Homo sapiens: one gene and its partner. The protein of the gene in region 2 purifies or fractionates together with the protein of the main gene of each other region. This does not show direct contact. Each region holds a gene or a part of one and is shown on either strand. Other genes may lie near its edges. The genes, in order: SERPINA12 and TOX4.

Region 1 (3,500 bases), about 73 Mb from region 2:
TAAACCCGGTGCCCTTCTTTGGGCTGAGAAATCTGAGGAATCCTTGCTAAAGGTGTGCCTTGGCCTCCCAACAGAAGACCCTCACAAGAGCCCTGCACTTGAAGAGCCACTTCAGGCCTGCTCTGTGGCTCACCTGTTTTAAAGGACTGATATTGCTTTAAGAAGAAATCACTCTATATACATCAGAAATTAAATTATTATTTTTAAAAGCACATTTAGAACTAAGTGGTGGTAAGACATATCTTCTCTCCCCTGTTAGAAGTAAGAGAAGCCCCATAAACAAACTCTGATGACCACAGCAATATACTTTCTCCTCCTTTCTGGAAAACAAAGAGTGGAGAACATGTCCCCATTCCACTTGTTAATTTGCCCTGTAGATTTCTGCCTTCATTCCTTAAGAAATATGTTTGAGTCCTCACTCTGTGTCAGGCACTGGGGCACTAGAGCAATGCCCAGGAAATGGTCCATATTGATGCTGCAGACTGACTCTCAGCCCAACAAGCCCCACAGCCTTCTCCAAACCCTCAAGAACCTTCCAGCTGTTTGCCTGACCTGGTCCTCCTCCCCTTCCGTGACTGCATTCTAGGAGGAGGGGTATGTGGGTTGGAAAGGCTGAGAGATCATTGACTTCAGGACTATCTGTGCCATAAAGAGGGAAATGAGGCCCAGAGTGGACAAAGGAAGAGATTGTGGTTGCAGTGTGCATCAGTGGTGAAGGCAATTCTGCAGAAATGCATTGAACAGGCTGCTTCGCCTCACTTTCTCCATGAACCAGTGAGTTGATGGATCCAGCCTCTATCCTCAGAGAGAGATAAAGATTCACAAACAGCTCACACACAAGGATGACTGTGGCCAGCATCATGCAGCAGGGGTGGACCCAAATTGGAGGCACCACTTATGTCCCAAGACTTCTCCCATCCCCACATTCATGAAGCTTCTCTCTCTAGAAAAGCACTGGGCAGTAGACATCCATAACACTCTGCCAAAGATGTTCAACAAATTCTTCAAGAGGGGTTTACCTGGATTTTGGAGATCCTCTAGAATTTTCCTTTCATACACCCACCTGTGGACAGTGCTACATCCTCCCTCGATCTGAAGCAAGCTTCGTGTGGAATAGACAAGAAGCACCGGATCTTTTGGAAGGGAAGGTCTCATACTCACAGTACATTCAGAAGTCCACTGAGCCAGCCAAATGCATCTGCCTTTCTTGCTTTATTATTTATACTTCCATGGCCTCTTGGAAGAGTAAGGCCAATACAATGAGCTGGCGTGTATGGGCAGGTGATGGAGGCTTTGGAAGCAATGGCCACACCACCTCCCTGGGAGCTCTCCCTGTGGAGGCAGCGGCATGATATCGTACCGGCCACACCCACTGGGCTGTGGCTTCCCTAATGAAGTCCACTAGACACCTTTTGCAACGACTCTATTTCCCAGTTGCTCTCTGGGTATGGAAGCCAGAATAGTCTACAAGTAGATGAGCCTAGAGTCCTAATACTGAATATTCAACCCAAGTATCATCATTGCTGCCCATGGGAACAGGTTGATAACTGGGCTTCTTGGGGTCATTCCCATGTATCCCTCACCATTTTCTTTTGCTATTTTTTCATGTGTTCCAAATTAGCTTAGCTCACATGGAGTCCTTTGGGGAAAAAGTTCGAGGACAGACAAATAGACAACTAAATGCGTAGATTCCGTTAGGAAGAACAGGAATTAAAAATTCACCTCAAAGTTCATGATCATGGAAATTACAAATTGTTTTCCTATTGCACATTTGTTGTGCTGGAGTGGTGAGACTATGGTTGGGTTCTCTTGTGCTGGGGTGATGAGACTATGGCTGAACTCTGTTGTCTCTGCCTCCCCCTTACTTTTCTATATTTTCCAAATTGTCTTTAAAAAACAGATATTACTTTAGGATTAATTTTTCAAAGGCTTAAAATAAAATAAAATAAAATTCTTATCTTCAGTTTTACCACTTGGAGAGAGAAGCATTGAAGATGTCTGGGAACATTCCAAACCCACTGATGCTGGGATGGAAGAGCAATAAGCTCAACATGCCTATCTTCAATTCTGCTTAATCTAATGAGCTCCAGTGAGCAGAAAAAACATTCACATATTTCTTCCCCATTGAGTGGTGTTTCACAGTAGGTCGTATCTGATCGAAACACCTCGGAGGCCTCGGAAGAGCCATGGGTGTTGTTTTCCCTTCCTTTGGGTTGCTGCTTTTAGCAAAGACATGACTCTCATTCCCAGAGCTATTCAGAGCAGGTGACCCAGACAAACCTTCTTGGAAAGAGGAGACACTAGTTCATTCCCAGGCCTGGTTCAGCCACAGACTCTATGCACTCAGGGCCTAGATGAACAAGGACATGGGGATATGGGTTCCAGAGCTGCCCAGATCAGAAACCACCCCTGAAGATGCCCCTGAGCCACCACCTTCCCTCGCCCAGGCAGCAAGGCCTGCCTGCTGGGATGCATGGGTCAAAGACACCATGTGAACGGCGAGATGAGAGACTTCACACTGGCCGGCTCTGGTCACCAAGGGGTTGCAGAGGAGACAGAAGGACAGGCTGAGACCAAGGAGTACAGGTGGTCCTATTGTGACTGTAGAGGCTATAGTGGTGGAAGATCAGAGCCAGTGAGGTGGACACTGACCCAGAATCCAGGTCTGTACATCTGGTTTGGGAGGGAAAACCTGCCCTCTAATGACAGGGTGAGGCCTGTGTGAGTCTGAGGGCCATGCCTCCCTGCCTGCCCCAGACACTCTCTGCTCCAGGGTAAATTTCCACGGGAGACATGCAGGAAGAGGCCAGGGTAGGGATGCCCACTGAGCGACACGGGCAGCACTGGGGATGCCTGAGTTCAGACAGTGCCAGAGGCCAGTAGGCCATGGGCAGAGGGTAGCCACAGGTGGGCTGCCGGCCAGCCAGGCGCTACACCTGGGTTGGGAGTTGCCTGTCCTGCCTGGGGAAAAGAGCCCCGGAGGAGGTGCACGTCTGTGGAGAGCAGTGAAGGATATAGGCATGGGAGGGAGCAGCCCCCTTCACGTGCCCATTAAGGGACCTCAGCCTAGACTTGAGGCTGCCCCGACTGCCTGTAGTTAAGATTCAGGTCCCATGGATTTGTGCCTGGTGTTCATCAGGGGCTAGAAGGATGAAGGAGATTGTCCAGCCTGGGAAGATTATTGTTATAAGTTAATGGGCCTAAGGCACTGGTCGGAGGCTGAGGGGTGGCCTGAATATTTTTTACATTATTGCCATGTGTAGGGGTGAGAGGGGAGCTAGGAATTTCTGGTCCTCATCCTCACTCTTTGGATCTCCCAGATGGAAGAAACATGTTAGTGACCATGCCACACCCTAACTCCAAGAGCTCTGGTCTGATGGGAACACAGAACACAGAGATACAAGTCACACTAGGTAAGGGCCAAGGTAGAGGTAACTCTGGGAGGTGAGAACACACAAGAGGCACCTGATCCTAGCTGGGGTGCTCTGGACTGTGTCATA
Region 2 (4,022 bases):
TACAGGCGTGAGCCACCGCTTCCAGCCCCAGCTAATTTTTTGTATTGTTAGTAGAAACAGGGTTTCACCATGTTGGCCAGGCTGGTCCTGAACTCCTGACCTCAGGTGATCCACCTGCCTTGGCCTCCCAAAGTGCTGGGATTACAGGCGTGAGCCACCACACCTGGCCATATTTATGTCTGTTTTAAAAAATAACGGTATGAACCAATTAAATTTTTCTGCCTATACCCCCTGCCCCACACACATTTAAAACATCAAGCTAAGGAACTTAAGACCTAGGAGAAATGAAAAGCTTTGCATGTCCAAAGTTTAGGATCCTTGGGTAACAACTCTGAATAATAACTGTTTAGGCTATATCCTGTCCAGTTGAACTAGTGACCTCTGCTTAGTTAAGGAGTGGTCTGGGGCAGAAGACTGTCTTAATGTATCTCACTAAAAACACTATGGGGCACACGGTGGCTCACGCCTGTAATCCCTGCACTCTGGGAGGCCGAAGCGGGCGAATCACGAGGTCAGGAGTTCAAGACCAGCCCAATGAACATGGTGAAACTCTGTCTCTAATAAAAATACAAAAAATTAGCTGGGTGTAGTGGTGGGCGCCTGTAATCCCAGCTACTCGGGAGGCTGAGGCAGGAGAATCACTTGAACTAGGAGGTGGAGATTGCAGTGAGCCAAGATTACACCACTGCACTCCAGCCCAGGCAACAGAGCGAGACTCCGTCTCAAGAAAAACAAAACAAAACAAAACAAAACAGGGCGGGTGCAGTGGCTCACACCTGTAATCCCAGCACTTTGGGAGGCCGAGGCAGGCAGATCACCTGAGATCAGGAGTTCGAGACCAGCCTGACCAACATGGAGAAACCGTCTCTACTAAAAATACAAAATTAGCCGGACATGGTGGCACATGCCTGTAATCCCAGCCACTCGGGAGGCTGAGGCAGGAGAATCTCTTGAACCCAGGAGGTAGAGGTTGCAGTGAGCCGAGATCGCACCATTGCACTCCAGCCTGGGCAATGAGTGAAACTCCATCTCAAAAACAAACAAACAAAAAAAAAACAGTATGAGTACCTTGGGTAAGAGAAGTCAACTGCTGCAAGGAACTCCCATCTGCAGGATGTTTTGTGCTCCTGGTTGCTGGGCATTAAATGCTAGTAGCAACCCCCACTGTTATTGGGTCAACCAAAAACATTTTTATACATTTCCACTAGACTAAAGACTTAAAAACAAAGGCTCACCTCAGGAACTACATCTGTGATCATCTCACAGATAGTCTCAGGAGAAGGTGCCTCCACTGTATGGGCCTCAGGGCTGTTGTTCATAGGCCGCTCAGGACTACTTTCCACAGTTGGTGGGACTAAGGTAGTCTGCATTTTCAAAGTGGGTAGAGGCACACTCTTGATCTGCAGAGGAGGAGGCTGTTGCTGTAAATTGATTCGAACTTTCTGAGGTGGAGGCTGTTGCATGGCCTGGAGTGGAGGAGGCTGCTGCAGAATGGTAACTTGCTGCTGAGTCGGGGGCTGTGGCATCTGTTGTAATGGAGGGGGCTGTAGTCGGGGTGGAGGCAGTTGCATAGAAGCAGCAGCAGCAGCAGCTGCTGCTGCCTGCAACACTGACCGAGTGACAATCTGGGCTTGTTGACTGGGCTGGATAGTAGCTGTACTGGTTTGGCCTAGTTGGAGCCCCCGGGAGGTCACCACTGTGGCTGGGATAACAGTAACCATCCCTCCTTGAGACATAGTAATAGAAGAGGGCAACATTTGTTTGGTAATAATCAACTTGGTGATATTGGGCTGACCCCCAGCTCCAGAAGATGCCTGGTTTGCCACATAGGATGAAAGGGTGGAGTTAACAACAATGGATGGGGACAGGGCAGGGGGCTCTATTGAAGCTGGTGCTGGAGATGCTGGGTCAACAGTAGCCATAGGAGGTGGAGAAGGAGTTTGTGATGGTGGTGCTGGATCCAATTCCACTGTTTCCACAGTGGCCTAAAAGAAGACATAAATCAATCTATCAATTAATCAATCACTTGGTGGTATTTACTTCTTAAAACTGCTAACAAACACTTCCAAAAAACTTCTTACTGGTTTAAATATTCATTCTATCCTATCCCTCTTACCTGACACTCCTGGTTGTCTTTGTAAGCAGCCAGTGCCTTCAGATACTCTTTCTTGGCAGCCTCAGTTTTCCTCTTATATACCTGCAAAAAAGAGACTTTAAAAAAAAAAACAAAACTCCCCATACTCTTAGGAAAGACTGATAGTTCTGTATTATTTATCAATGAATGACAATTCATCTTAGTCTAATCACTGACAACCTCTATCAGTGAATTCAATTCTGAAAGCTAACAGTCAAGACAACCTCCATGGCAGACTCACTCCACTGAGCATACCTCTGAAAGACAACCAATCGACAGGAGTCTGGCAAGAATAGCTACATTTATTTTATTTTGCTACATTTATTTTATTTTTTTTAAATTTTTTTTGAGACAGAGTCGTGCTCTCTCGCCCAGGCTCGAGTGCAGTGGCGTGATCTTGGCTCATTGCAAGCTCTGCCTCCCAGGTTCATGCCATTCTCCTGCTTCAGCCTCCTGAGTAGCTGGGACTATAGGCACCCGCCACCACGCCCGGCTAATTTTTTGTATTTTTAGTAGAGATGGGGTTTCGCTGTGTTAGCCAGGATGGTCTCGATCTCCTGACCTTGTGATCCGCCTGCCTCTGCCTCCCAAAGTGCTGGGATTACAGGCGTGAGCCACCACGCCTGGCCGAGAATAGCTACATTTAAGGCAAACATCAACCCATGCTCACTTCTGTAACAAAAATAAACCCTAATCTGCCAGGTGCGGTGGCTCACGCCTGTAATCCCAGCACTTTGGGAGGCCAAGGTGGCCAGATCACGAGGTCAGGAGATTGAGACCATCCTGGCTAACCTGGTGAAACCCGATCTCTACTAAAAAAAACAAAAACAAAACTAGCCCGGCGTGGTGATGGGCGCCTATAGTCCAGCTACTCAGGAGGCTGAGGCAGGAGAATGGCGTGAACCTGGGAGATAGAGCTTGCAGTCAACCAAGATTGTGCTACTGCACTCCAGCCTGGGCGACACAGTGAGACTCTGTCTCAAAAAAATAAATAAATAAATACAAAATAAACCCTAATCCAAAAACTGTGTCTTAGCCTGGGACTGTGTCTAACCAGTATATTTTCCCTTATGGAATGTGGTAAATTGTTTGCAAAGATGGCCACAACAACTCCTCCCATATGACCTTTCTCCCTTCAAGAGCTGAAGCCTATTTCCCCCTCCTTTGAATCTGGGCTAGCTCTAAAAAGTTTTTAAACTCTAAATCCAAAAAAGAAAAAGAAAGAAAAAAAATAGGCCAGGTGCGGTGGCTCACACCTGTAATCCCAGCACGTTGGGAGGACAAGGCAGGCGGATCACCTGAGGTCAGGAGTTTGGCACCAGCCTGACCAACACGGTGAAACCCTGTCTCTACTAAAAATACAACATTAGCTGGGTGTGGCGGCACATGCCGGTAATCCCAGCTACTTGGGAGGCTGAGGCAGGAGAATCACTTGAACCCAGGAGGTGGAAGTTGCAGTAAGCTGAGATTGCACCACTGCACTGCAGCCTGGGTAACAGGAGCGAAATTCCATCTCAAAAACAAACAAACAAGTAATTCTAAATCCAAACTTGGTAGTGGATTTGAGAGTTAGCCACAGCATGCAGCTTATCAAGTAATAGCCTAATTTTATAAATGGGGGAAAAAATGAGACTTAGAAAAGTTAAATATCTAAAAATTGAACAGAAGGACACTACATGAGGAATTATAGGAGACATTATTAGTGGAAAGTACATGGGAAGAGTTAAAGAACCTGGATTGTGTCTCAACTTTACCACTTAAATGTTATATGACCTTAACTGGGCAGTGGGCTCCAGTTTCCACCTTAAAAGCGGGAAATGGTAGCTATTTTTGAGAGTTATTGTAAAGATGCAGTACTTCTGTAACAATTATTATTATTTTTTGAGAT

The links.
Region 1: the proteins of TOX4 (region 2) and SERPINA12 purify together in Homo sapiens (affinity purification with mass spectrometry; 2 studies listed by BioGRID and IntAct, with this or other methods). This does not show direct contact.

The regions. Positions count from the first base shown.
Region 1 is NC_000014.9:94,502,970-94,506,469, forward strand, and holds part of SERPINA12 (serpin A12 precursor), read right to left. Parts: intron 1,254-3,500; exon of another isoform or gene 1,064-1,253; intron 1-1,063. UniProt on the Homo sapiens protein: Adipokine that modulates insulin action by specifically inhibiting its target protease KLK7 in white adipose tissues.
Region 2 is NC_000014.9:21,490,471-21,494,492, reverse strand, and holds part of TOX4 (TOX high mobility group box family member 4), read right to left. Parts: intron 2,198-4,022; coding exon 2,117-2,197; intron 1,986-2,116; coding exon 1,236-1,985; intron 1-1,235. UniProt on the Homo sapiens protein: Transcription factor that modulates cell fate reprogramming from the somatic state to the pluripotent and neuronal fate. In liver, controls the expression of hormone-regulated gluconeogenic genes such as G6PC1 and PCK1.